Linked DNA regions of Homo sapiens: regions 1, 2 and 3 are each reported to be linked to region 4. The links are microRNA targets in miRTarBase. Many come from high-throughput screens and were not tested one by one. Region 4 holds a microRNA gene; each other region holds the end of a gene's coding sequence.
Evidence for each region. Region 4 holds the annotated microRNA hsa-miR-7852-3p (UAUGUAGUAGUCAAAGGCAUUU, at 915-936, opposite strand). A microRNA usually pairs through its seed, bases 2 to 8, with sites in the 3' UTR of a target mRNA and lowers its output. Matches are read on the target gene's strand: a 7mer-m8 pairs with bases 2 to 8, a 7mer-A1 pairs with bases 2 to 7 and ends in A, and an 8mer does both.

Region 1: the mRNA of PRR23A is a reported target of hsa-miR-7852-3p. Seed matches in the 3' UTR shown: 7mer-A1 at 1,272-1,278.
Region 2: the mRNA of RTN4RL1 is a reported target of hsa-miR-7852-3p. Seed matches in the 3' UTR shown: 7mer-A1 at 1,312-1,318.
Region 3: miRTarBase lists PHAF1 as a target of hsa-miR-7852-3p. Seed matches in the 3' UTR shown: 7mer-m8 at 2,114-2,120.

What each region holds. Positions count from the first base shown.
Region 1 is chr3:139,002,769-139,005,875 of GRCh38, forward strand. It overlaps PRR23A (proline rich 23A), which reads right to left. Exons shown (of 1, transcript NM_001134659.1): 1 at 1,194-3,107. The coding sequence ends at 2,700. Among named protein-coding and RNA genes, the nearest start is that of PRR23A, 1.9 kb to the right of the region's middle.
Region 2 is chr17:1,933,982-1,937,069 of GRCh38, reverse strand. It overlaps RTN4RL1 (reticulon 4 receptor like 1), which reads left to right. Exons shown (of 2, transcript NM_178568.4): 2 at 1-2,393. The coding sequence ends at 574. Among named protein-coding and RNA genes, the nearest start is that of RTN4RL1-AS1, 82 kb to the left of the region's middle.
Region 3 is chr16:67,146,607-67,149,713 of GRCh38, reverse strand. PHAF1 (phagophore assembly factor 1) reads right to left here. Exons shown (of 16, transcript NM_025187.5): 16 at 1,170-2,669. The coding sequence ends at 2,583. It overlaps B3GNT9 (UDP-GlcNAc:betaGal beta-1,3-N-acetylglucosaminyltransferase 9), which reads left to right. Exons shown (of 2, transcript NM_033309.3): 2 at 1-1,610. The coding sequence ends at 437. Among named protein-coding and RNA genes, the nearest start is that of B3GNT9, 2.8 kb to the left of the region's middle.
Region 4 is chr1:107,895,218-107,898,217 of GRCh38, reverse strand. It overlaps MIR7852 (microRNA 7852), which reads right to left and starts at 995; the gene lies at 914-995. All of the region lies in intron 1 of VAV3 (vav guanine nucleotide exchange factor 3), which reads left to right.

The DNA of each region.
Region 1 (3,107 bases), not on the chromosome of region 4:
AAACTAAAAAGCTTCTGCACAGCAAAGGAAACAAGAGAATGAGGAGACAACCCACAGATTAGGAGAAAAGATGTGCAAACCACACATCTGATAAAGGGCTAATATAAAAAAAATAAAGAACTTTATCAACTATTTTTACTCCTGTTTATGGGTCACATTTTGCTGCACATTCATATATTTAATAATCTTTAATTTGATGCTAGTCATTGTGATGGTTGTATTTTTGAGTGTCTTGATTTTATTGCCTTCTTTTAAAGAGTTTTCTTACTCAATTTTGAAAGTGTTATTCTGGACACACAAGTCCTTTATTAGATATTTGCGTTGTGAATATATGTTTTTTTTCCATCTGTGGCTTATCTTTTCATTTTAACAGTGTCTTTGGAGAACAAAAGTTCTTCATTTGGATGAGGCCCGTCATCACATTATTTCTTTAAGGATTGTGCTTTCGGTGTCATATTTAAGAAATCTGAGGCTAGGTGCTGTGGCTCATGCCTGTAATCCCAGCATTTTGGAAGGCAGGAGGATCACTTGAGCCCAGGAGTTCAAGACAAGCCTGGGCAACCGAGCAAGACTCCTTCTCCACAAAAAATTAAAAAAATTATTTGGGTATCGTGGTTTGTGCCTGTAGTCCCTGCCACTTGGGAGGCTTAGGTGAGAGGACTGCTTAAGCCTAGGAGTTCAAAGCTGTTGTGAGCTATGATTGTGCCATTACACTCCAACCTGGGTGATAGAGAGAGACCTGGTATCTAAAAAAAACCCCCCAAAACAAAAAAGAAATAAAAATAAATCTGAGGCCAGGTGCGGTAGCTCACTCCTGTAATTCCAGCACTTTTGGAGGCTGTGTCAGGAGGACTGCTTGAGGCCAGGAGTTTGAAACCAGCCTGGGCAACATAGTGAGACTCCATCTCTAAAAAAAAAATTTTTTTTAAATTTAGGTGGGTGTGGGAGTGCGCACCTGTAGTCCCAGTTACTTGGGAGGCTGAGGCAAAGGATCTCTTGAGCCCACTCATTGTGCCACTGCACTCCATCCAGGGTGACAGAATGAGACCCTGTCTCCAATAAATAAACAAATAAAGAAATAAATAAAGAACAAATATCACAATCATATGATGGATACTGGAATCTTTAGAAGAAATTTACTACACATATTTATGTCATCTCGAAAATAAAGTTGAGAAAAAAACTGGAGAATATGAGGTAGTTATGTAAATTTAATTGTCCAGAAAACAACATAAACATTGCTTATTTATATCTATACATATATATATGTATATGTAGCTTTCATATATTGACTAGAATGATATCCATCAACTTTGTGTCATGATGTGAATCCCCTGGGAATGGGGGAGAAGAGTGGGGATCAAAGGATATGACAACATTATCTGTAATATTTCCTTTCCTTTATAGTTAAAAAGACATTAAGGAAATAATACTAAGAAATAACGACTGCCAATTCAGGGTGATGGACTCAAGAGCATGAAAAAAACTCTCAAAAATAAATTAGACCAAATGTCCATGCGGTGAAGGTGAGTGAGTACCCCTGAGAGGAAATCAAGATGAAGCCCACACTGCCCTGAAATTCAGGAATACCCATTGGTTAAAGTACATAGAATATGTCATTGTACAAGATGCTGCTGGAATGAAAGTGTCACAACTTCCTACTTTCCCTCATTAAATATTGCTTTCACTAATTTTTAAATTGTTTTTTCGTTTTCTTTTTTTTTTTTTTGAGATGGAGTCTCACTCTGTTGCCCAGGCTGGAGTGCAATGGCACGATCTCGGCTCATTGCAACCTCTGCCTCTCAGGTTCAAGCACTCCTCCTGCCTCATCCCTGCTAGTAGCTGGGATTACAGGCACACGCCACCATGCCCGGCTAATTTTCGTATTTTTAGTAGAGACGGAGTTTCGCCATGTTGGCCAGGCTAGTCTCGAACTCCTGACTGCAGGTGATCCACACGCCTCGGCCTCCCAAAGTGCTGGGATTACAGGCGTGAGCCATCGCGCCCGGCCCTTAAATTCTTATTTGCAGAAACACTTCCAAAAGGTCCAGTGCATTCATTACATTTGAATGTTGTTTGTTTACTATCTAATCTAATATGCATTTATCTTGATTGTCCAGGTCCAGGAAAAGGAGTTAAGGAGAGCAAGTGGAAAATAAAATCAGTGGTCAGAAGCACCTCAGAGGATGTTGGGAGAAATCGTATAGGTAAATTCCTAACTGCAAAAAGAAGGAAAGACAATGATCTGGATTGGAGAGAACGGATAGGTGTATGGAAGTGATAAAAAAAAAGGGGGGAATTTTAAAGAAAACTGAAGGGAGCTTTAAGCAAGAGTAGGGGTGAAACTGAGGATACAGTTGGCTGAAGGTGACAAAGGCAGAAGTAACAGCTCCTGCAGCAAAGGCAAGGGATCTGAAAATCCATGACTGGTTATGTGTGGTCTACTCTTCTTGGTAAAGGTGCTTACCAGAATCTGCTTTTCTTTTTTCATGTCCTTGCCTGCCACTTACCAAGGAATTCTGCCAAAAAACCAACCAGCCAGCCAGCCAACCAACCAACCCACCCAAACAACAGTAATCCAACTGCCCGCTGTCGATGAATGAAGATGCTGCATTTCCGGGCTGTGGCAAGTCCTCACAGTGAGTCTTGGAGGATCCACAAGAACCCGCAGCCGGTGGCAAGGGATTGTGGGAAGCAGTTCATTCCTGGAACAGTCGTCTGCGGGCCTTGCACGGAGGGCGTTTCGGGAGCGGCGGGTGCGCGTGGGGACCTGGACTCCCCACGCGCGGAGAGGGAGGTAGAGGTTGGAGAGGTGAGCTGGGGACAGGCTCCAGAAGGCGGAATTCCGGGTCGAAGAAGGGGCCTGGAGAGTGTCCCTCTGAACTGGGGTTGGGGGCCAGAGCACAGGGTTCTGGGATGGGGCCCTCCCGGTAGGGGCTGAACATACTTCTGGCGGAGGAGTAGAGCCCAGCGGCTGAGCCGGCTGCGGAGTCCATCTGGAGCTCCGGAAACTCGGGGTCCGCGTCCTCCTCGTAGGCCTCTTCCTGGGCGGCGATCTCTGGGACAGATGCGCAGAAGACTTCCTGCTCAACGACGACGTCCTCCCT
Region 2 (3,088 bases), not on the chromosome of region 4:
CCTCAACGGCAACCCCTGGGACTGTGGTTGTCGCGCGCGCTCCCTGTGGGAATGGCTGCAGAGGTTCCGGGGCTCCAGCTCCGCTGTCCCCTGTGTGTCCCCTGGGCTGCGGCACGGCCAGGACCTGAAGCTGCTGAGGGCCGAGGACTTCCGGAACTGCACGGGACCAGCGTCCCCGCACCAGATCAAGTCACACACGCTCACCACCACCGACAGGGCCGCCCGCAAGGAACACCACTCACCCCACGGCCCCACCAGGAGCAAGGGCCACCCGCACGGCCCCCGGCCCGGCCACAGGAAGCCGGGGAAGAACTGCACCAACCCCAGGAACCGCAATCAGATCTCTAAGGCGGGCGCCGGGAAACAGGCCCCCGAGCTGCCAGACTATGCCCCAGACTACCAGCACAAGTTCAGTTTTGACATCATGCCTACGGCCCGGCCCAAGAGGAAGGGCAAGTGTGCCCGCAGGACCCCCATCCGTGCCCCCAGCGGGGTGCAGCAGGCCTCCTCGGCCAGTTCCCTGGGGGCCTCCCTCCTGGCCTGGACACTGGGGCTGGCGGTCACTCTCCGCTGAGGACCCAGGGCGTCAGCACCCAGCACTGCCACATGTCCACCAAGGAACAGAATTTATTTTCTTCTTTTTTTAACAAGTGGAAGATCTGCTGGGTTTCAGGAAAAGGCTGGTAGAGCCTTCGGCTGCTGTCTGGACGTCTGGACCCTGCCATGTGGATTATAAACCCAAAGTGTACAGCCCTAGGCGGGAGGGGGTGGCGCTTCTCAGCCGGCTGTCCCAGCCAGCCCCGCAGAGCGCCCACGGACAGTGTCCACTCTGGCAAGGTGGGAAAAGGCACTCCAAGTGCATCCTCCACTGGCAACAGTGGGACAATTGCCCCCGACGGCGGCACCGGGGCTCTGTGGAATCCCGATCGTTCCGAGAGGTCTGGAGGGCCCCGTGGTTCCTGGAGAAAGCAGGACGCAGAGAAGAACAAATGAGGCTCACCCACGAGGCTGGGTGGCCAGCAGTCTGGGCACACACGAGCAGGTGGCATCTTGGCTCTTGCCTGAGGCCAGTCACCCTGCCCTGAATTCTATCCTACTCCACCTTCAGCCCCTCCCTCGGGGGTAGCGCCTCTCATTCCTGATGTCTCAGGCAACCCTGGCAGACCCAGGTCCAACTGCTGGGGTCCAAGAACCAATTACCAAAGGAAAGATCATCAGAGGCTGAAATCTAGAACTTCATCCCGGGCAATGAGGTTCTCACAGAAGGTGCAGTTTTATAACTAACTACGTCCACTTATATATATTCACACTCTACATATATATATATATATATATATATATATATATATATATATATACACAAATGCACAGTCCCCCTCCCACTCCGTTACCTAACTGTACGTCTTTTCATGTTTATAAACTATACAGAAAACTGTATTTGCTGAACTAAGGATTGTATTGGTGATTTCTAGCAAAAACAAAGTGATAGAATTTTTGTCTAGAATCCCAAACTGGCAACGATAGTCTCCAAGGGACCTGGCCTTGCCAAGGGCCTGGGGCAAGGTGTCGGCGGGACGGTGAGGAAGGGGGAGGCAGCAAGAGTCACTTTGGGGGACCAATATTCTTAGATATTTAGAGCATCACCTTGTTTTTATATGCAACACAAGCCTGTCTGCCACCCTGGAGCGCCCTGTCACCCCTGCTGTCGTAGCTGTTGGCTTCAGGGTGAGAAGTGAGAAGCAGCTTATTGTATATGAGGGAGCCAGGCCCCGAGGGTGAGCGAGATGGAGAAGGGGAAGGAAGGGGCTTTGGGATCTGGAAACCAGCAGGCCAGGCAGCATCCACAGTGTTAGTCCAAAGGGTCGGACCGTGTCGTCAGCCTAGCGTTTGGTCAGTGACGGCCTGGACGGGCCAAGGAGACTCCGGGCTTGAGCCCAGGCCTCCCGCACGGCTCAGCTGCTGAATTTTTCCTTGAGGCTGTTTGGTGTGTGACCCAGCAAGGGCCCTGTGTGGGACAGCAGGAGGGAGGCGTCGGGGGCCTTAGCAGAAGGGGAACAATGAGGGCATTTCATGAACCATCTCAGGCACTTCTGCATCACGGAAGACCTGGCCCTCCCAGCCGTCCTGGGGATGCTCAGGGTGCAGGCAGAGGCTCGGGAGGCCGGACTCAGGGGTCAGAAGCAGGGACTGGGGCAGGCGAGCCCGGACAGGGAAGAGGGGCTCCGATCAAAGCCGGCCGTGCTGCTGGCCGGGGGCCCAGGTGGGTACAAGCTCCTTTGTGCTTTGCACAAACCTGAATCCCCCACCAGAGAGGATGTGTGTGAGGAGCCAGAAACGCTGAATCCAATTAAGAGAGAAAAATAATAATAACAATAAATGATCTTGGACAAGAACCCTGTTTTTCATTTCCTAACCCCGCATTCCCGACAGGTGGCAGATCCTGGGCTTCTGTGGGTGGGCGAGCCTGGCCGGGCACAGCTCTGGGAACACAGCACATTTGTTGGCGGGAGGAGCCGCAGGGGGCAGGGGCGCACTGATTCACGGGACACATGAGAGCACGCACACCCTGGTGCTCCGTTTCGTGGCACTTCCCTTGCCCGCACAGATCATGATTCACTTTCCACATTCTGACTGCCCCGGGTCGGCACCATCTCCGTGGCTCTCCCCGGAGGAGGCTGGTCCTGGGTCCTTCCTGGCCTATTCCCGGGAGTCTCCGGAGCAATGGCTAAGTGACTGATCCTCAGGGCGCCCGGCAGGCGGCTGGTGGGGACGGGCGGCTGCAAGGAAACAGTCAGTACCTGGGGCCCAAGGAGTTTTCCAGGAGGCTAGGGACCCACCCGGACAGCTGTGGGTGGGCTTGGAGACTGCACACGTCTCTCTGGCTTCAGAGAAAGGAGAGGGTTCCCCGGATAGAGGGAGGAAGGCTGTGTTTTCAGGCCTGGCTGGACAAATCCTCCTCAGTATGAGGCTTGGGGCATTCACTAAAGGGAGCCCAGTGACTGCAGACCAAAGAATCCTCAGCCTGCACCTGCTCCCCTGTGGCCTGCAGGCTCTGACCCAGGCCGAGGTGCTAGGGCCTGGCTGTCCC
Region 3 (3,107 bases), not on the chromosome of region 4:
TTGTGCATGCGCGGCCCATCCGCACGCGGGCTAGCAAGTACTACATCCCCGAGGCCGTGTACGGCCTGCCCGCCTATCCGGCCTACGCGGGCGGCGGTGGCTTTGTGCTTTCCGGGGCCACGCTGCACCGCCTGGCTGGCGCCTGTGCGCAGGTCGAGCTCTTCCCCATCGACGACGTCTTTCTGGGCATGTGTCTGCAGCGCCTGCGGCTCACGCCCGAGCCTCACCCTGCCTTCCGCACCTTTGGCATCCCCCAGCCTTCAGCCGCGCCGCATTTGAGCACCTTCGACCCCTGCTTTTACCGTGAGCTGGTTGTAGTGCACGGGCTCTCGGCCGCTGACATCTGGCTTATGTGGCGCCTGCTGCACGGGCCGCATGGGCCAGCCTGTGCGCATCCACAGCCTGTCGCTGCAGGCCCCTTCCAATGGGACTCCTAGCTCCCCACTACAGCCCCAAGCTCCTAACTCAGACCCAGAATGGAGCCGGTTTCCCAGATTATTGCCGTGTATGTGGTTCTTCCCTGATCACCAGGTGCCTGTCTCCACAGGATCCCAGGGGATGGGGGTTAAGCTTGGCTCCTGGCGGTCCACCCTGCTGGAACCAGTTGAAACCCGTGTAATGGTGACCCTTTGAGCGAGCCAAGGCTGGGTGGTAGATGACCATCTCTTGTCCAACAGGTCCCAGAGCAGTGGATATGTCTGGTCCTCCTAGTAGCACAGAGGTGTGTTCTGGTGTGGTGGCAGGGACTTAGGGAATCCTACCACTCTGCTGGATTTGGAACCCCCTAGGCTGACGCGGACGTATGCAGAGGCTCTCAAGGCCAGGCCCCACAGGGAGGTGGAGGGGCTCCGGCCGCCACAGCCTGAATTCATGAACCTGGCAGGCACTTTGCCATAGCTCATCTGAAAACAGATATTATGCTTCCCACAACCTCTCCTGGGCCCAGGTGTGGCTGAGCACCAGGGATGGAGCCACACATAAGGGACAAATGAGTGCACGGTCCTACCTAGTCTTTCCTCACCTCCTGAACTCACACAACAATGCCAGTCTCCCACTGGAGGCTGTATCCCCTCAGAGGAGCCAAGGAATGTCTTCCCCTGAGATGCCACCACTATTAATTTCCCCATATGCTTCAACCACCCCCTTGCTCAAAAAACCAATACCCACACTTACCTTAATACAAACATCCCAGCAACAGCACATGGCAGGCCATTGCTGAGGGCACAGGTGCTTTATTGGAGAGGGGATGTGGGCAGGGGATAAGGAAGGTTCCCCCATTCCAGGAGGATGGGAACAGTCCTGGCTGCCCCTGACAGTGGGGATATGCAAGGGGCTCTGGCCAGGCCACAGTCCAAATGGGAAGACACCAGTCAGTCACAAAAGTCGGGAGCGCCACACAAACCTGGCTATAAGGCCCAGGAACCATATAGGAGCCTGAGACAGGTCCCCTGCACATTCATCATTAAACTATACAGGATGAGGCTGTACATGAGTTAATTACAAAAGAGTCATATTTACAAAAATCTGTACACACATTTGAAAAACTCACAAAATTGTCATCTATGTATCACAAGTTGCTAGACCAAAATATTAAAAATGGGATAAAATTATACATTTTTCTTCTCAGTTCTTTTCAAAAGGATTAATATTTTTAAAGCACATATATGCTACTTTCCATTAGCAAGACCCATGAAGGGACTGAGCAGCCCAGCCTTCCTTGAGCCCCCAGAGGCTTTGAGCCATGAAATGGCCCAGCCAGGGGCCAGTGCCCAGGGTTGGGGCAGAGAGCCAGCCCACAGTGCAGAACAGAATGCTGAAACACAACAAAAGTAGGAAGATGTCTTTGGCTAAAACTTTGGCATTAAATAAAAGAGGCAAACAGGATGGAAACATGCAGCCCTGCCAGCCAGGATGGGGCAGAGCAGGGGCACAGGCAATCTTGAAAGCTGACTCCAACAGGGGTGAGAACCAGGCCTGGGCATGTACCTGGATGGTAGAAAGCTGTGTTTCAACCAGTTTGGTGTGCCCAGGCAGGGAGCGCGTGCAAGAAAGGAACAGGGAAGGGCAGGTGGGCCACCCTGGCCACAGCCAGCTCATCAAGTAACTAAAGTGGATGTAGTGCAAATGTCGCAACCAAGTACTATGGACACGCTACCTGCTTGCCTTAAGGGTCATGTGGCAATGTGGAGCCAAAGGCAGGACCTTGTCCTTATCCTGGGTGCCTGTGTCCTCAGTCACAGAAAGAGCCCCAAGTCTTCCCAATGTGCATGGGACAAGGGTTGACCTCTCCTGCCTCCTTGTTAGTTGAGAGCTCCTGGGTCCAGGAATCAAGGCTCAAACTTTGTGCTTCTCTTTGCAGTCTGTGTCCCCTGCTGGCACCAGCAGGCCAAAGATGGACAGAAGAATATCTGGGCCACTCAGCCCATGGCAGAGCACCCAGCCTGAGCCCAACCTCAGAACATCACAACAGCCCTTCAGCACTGGCCAGGTGTCCAAGAAAACCCACAGGGTGGTACAGAGGCCCACTGAGCAGGATGTGATGCACAGTTCCACGGGACAGAGGGGCATGGGTGGTGGTGTCCCTAGGGGAGTTCCGCTGTTCTCAGGTGGCTACCAGGCCTGGGGGGGCCATACAGGGTCACCGAGGCAATGTGGTTGTTCTGCATGACCTGGTGTGAGAAGAGGACAGTGGGTCAAGGGGGAGAGGTAAAGGGATGTAGGCAGATCCTGTGCATGAGGGCTGGAGGTTGTGTGACATACCTGCACCTAATGGCTGGGTTTCCCGACTCCTCAACCTCCCCTGGTTCATGCTAAAGGCCCCCCTCTGCCTGAGATCTGCCTGTTTCTCAATGGTTACACACAGCCTTTACCATGGCCACGTGTCCAGTCCTTCTGGAACTGTTAAGTGTCTGCTGGAGATACTGCATCCACAGGGAAAACAAGGGCAGCTTGCTGTTCTCCCAAGTCAGCAGGGCCTCCAGAGCCACTCACTCCCCTACAATGCATTTGTTCACATGCCACTGGAGGGCCCCCAACACCCTCTGCTGGGCCCCACTTGCCCTGTGGTTCCCTTCCCTGCTATAATCATGTTGTCAGATAGAAACTTG
Region 4 (3,000 bases):
CATGTATACATGCATTATATATATGTATTCACGTGATGATACTCGTTCCCCCATATTTTCCAAAATGAGGTCATAGAACAGGTGCTGAGTTTTGATCTGCTTCCTTTTTTTTTTAATTTAATAATGACATTCTTTGCCCAAAGGAGTAATAAAACCTATTTTTATCTAAAATCTCTGGAGAACAAAACATTTTACCTAATAGTTTTCAAGTTAGGTAAGGGTTTTCATACTCATATTTTAAACTTTTTAGCTTTTCATAAAAAATCTTTTAAGATGTGGCACACTCTAGTGGTTATGAGACTTTGGGTTTTATTGAACAGTGTAGGGAAAAGAGCAAGAGGGGATTTTAGAAAGTAAGGTACAGCAATAAAATTTCATAAAATATGTCTTAATGTGTACTATCCCTTTCATTTCATAAAGGAGAGGACCGATTCTAGCACCATACATGAAGGAAGAGTATAATCTCAGAATGCCAGGCTGCCATTCAGGAAGTACCAGCATGCTGTCTCAGATAAGCGGTTCTGAGGAACTGCAGTCTATGGTTTATGCACTTACTGAGTTACCGTGGTGTCATGGGCAGGGTGAATGCACCTGAGGTGGTGCAGGACGCCAAATAGTGTAACTAGAAGTCCCAGAGGAGGCTAAAGCCTTCTTGACTAAACTGCGACCCTGGTGCTGTGTGGGTAGCTCCTTTCCTGCCTCACTTCCTCCTTTTCCTTCCCTCGTGGCATTCTCAGCTTTCCATATGCCCTTTCTGGGTCCTGGTTGCTCCTGTTCCCTCCCCTGTTGCTCCTGATACTCACCTCTTCTTGTCTTTTCTCTCTTTCTCCCTCTACTTTTTCAATTCTCATGGTTTTCTCTGTAGAGAAAAGCTGATCTTTTAAGACACAGTGGTCTTTTTGTATGAAGTATGTAAATGCCTTTGACTACTACATACATATGCCTACATATGAAAGTAGTAGTAGGCATATGTATGTAGTAGTCAAAGGCATTTATTAATTTAGTTGTTCAATATATATTTACTGCTGTGTCTCTAGGCAACAGAGATGCAAGGCCAAGCCAAACCTCCTCCCTTGGGAATTCTCAGGACAGTGGCAGTTACTTTGGGTCTTTAGCACTTATGGCAGGTGTCAGTGCTGCTCCGGCTCCTTGTGTTGCCATCTGGGTACTGTTTAAACCTTATTGTGGACTGTGGATTTCTTTGGGTGAAAGTCTGTTTTTCTCACCCTTCTATCTGTTGAGTGCTGTGCAGTGTCTTGTACAGAATAGATTTATTTTCCTGTCTATTTCTGGAGAGGGGCTTTTTTTGAAGATCTGATCAATGATTGGAGTCAAACTCTTTAGTCCCACATGTGATCCATTGTAAACTAACTGGCAAATGTTTCATATTTCCCCTCTAATACATAACAAAAACAGTTTAAGTCTGAAAAGTGGTATAAATGGAACGGAACATGACATTCCTGTAGCCATTTTTTTAATACAGATTATATCCCTGATTAATAACAAAATTGCCAGTCTTTTTAAATATAAAATTACAACAACCATATAGAATCACACACCTCCAACCTCTGCTGATCTTGATCTTAGTACATGAGGCTTGGGTTGCGATTAGATTTATTGTGGCAGGAGGTTTTGTGTTTGAGGAACTAAAGGACTTTCTAGTAAACATAGATGCAGGAGAGCAAATTTGTGAGTAAATACCTTAAAGTCTTTATATAAGTTTTTTGTAGTTAAAGTCACTAACACAGAACAATAATAACAGTACAATAAATACAGAGAATGTACGTGGCATTTTAGATATCAAGTTGGTAATAATGGCTGCTGTGCGATTAATTTGATGAAAGAGGACAGTGATGATCCTGATTGGAAGATTGATAGCTCTTGGGTGGGGTGGGGATGGGGAGAGGCACTCCACTTGCTTTTCTTAAGGACTTGCTCAAAGTAAGTCTGTGTCTCTAAGTGGAGAGCTTTATCAATTGATTTCTTTTTAACATTTGATATATGTCCAGTATGTTCTGCCAAATGCAGGTTGCCAACCAGTAAGTTACAGAAATGGCTCCATGGTTCTGCAGTGCTCTGGCTGCCTAAATTGAACATTATGTATCTGTGTTGTTCTGATGGAATTAGAATCCTGCAGGTGCTTGTGGCCATGGGAGAAAGTGTGTGGCAGCACCTCTGGCACGGAGAGTTACTTCCTGCAAGAAGTCCAAGCTGAAAATGGATCCCCGCTGGGCCACATTTCTGGTGCCACTTCATTGAGCACTTTCTGTGTAGCAGCAGTTTCCTGGTGTTACTGCTGAATTGTTTCAGGGGTAATTTCCTGTGAGTTCAGTATGCATAGTAACAATAAAGAATTTTCATATTGCTATGTGATTAATGTTTATTAAGTATAAAATTTCACAGTTGTGTAAAAATATGCAAAATTTATAACTAATTCATTTTTGAGCAAGGACACATGATTGGGGTGGGATTACTATTTAATAAAAATGCTACTCTATTATTTATTGTAAGTCTTTTACAAGTGTACAGAAATCAGTGACGTGGCCAATAATACCAGTTTTTCTTTCCTGTGTCACTGGGTAGTCTAAAGGCATAGTGAGGTGTTTAGTAACTTCATAGTTTAGTAACTGTGAAGCCAGGCTGCCTCAGTTTGAATCCTACCTCCTCTAACTATTGGCTGTATGACATTGGGCAACTATTTAACATCTCTCTACCTCTGTTTCCTCATCTGTAAAATGGGGGTAGCTGTGAGAACTGGATAAGATTGCTTAGGATAGTGTCTGACAGAGTAAGACCTTTGTAAGTGTTAGTTCTACTAATTATTATTTTTCAGATTCCTGCATTATTTTTATAACAGCAGATGACAAGCAATGTGAAAAAGTACCATTATAAGTACAATGTAAGTGGAATACAAATGTTAGCCATGGTTTTCTACACCTTTGAGGAAATAATATTGATTTTTGTTCCCCACTCACGTCCCATGGGTGAGAGTCCGATTCC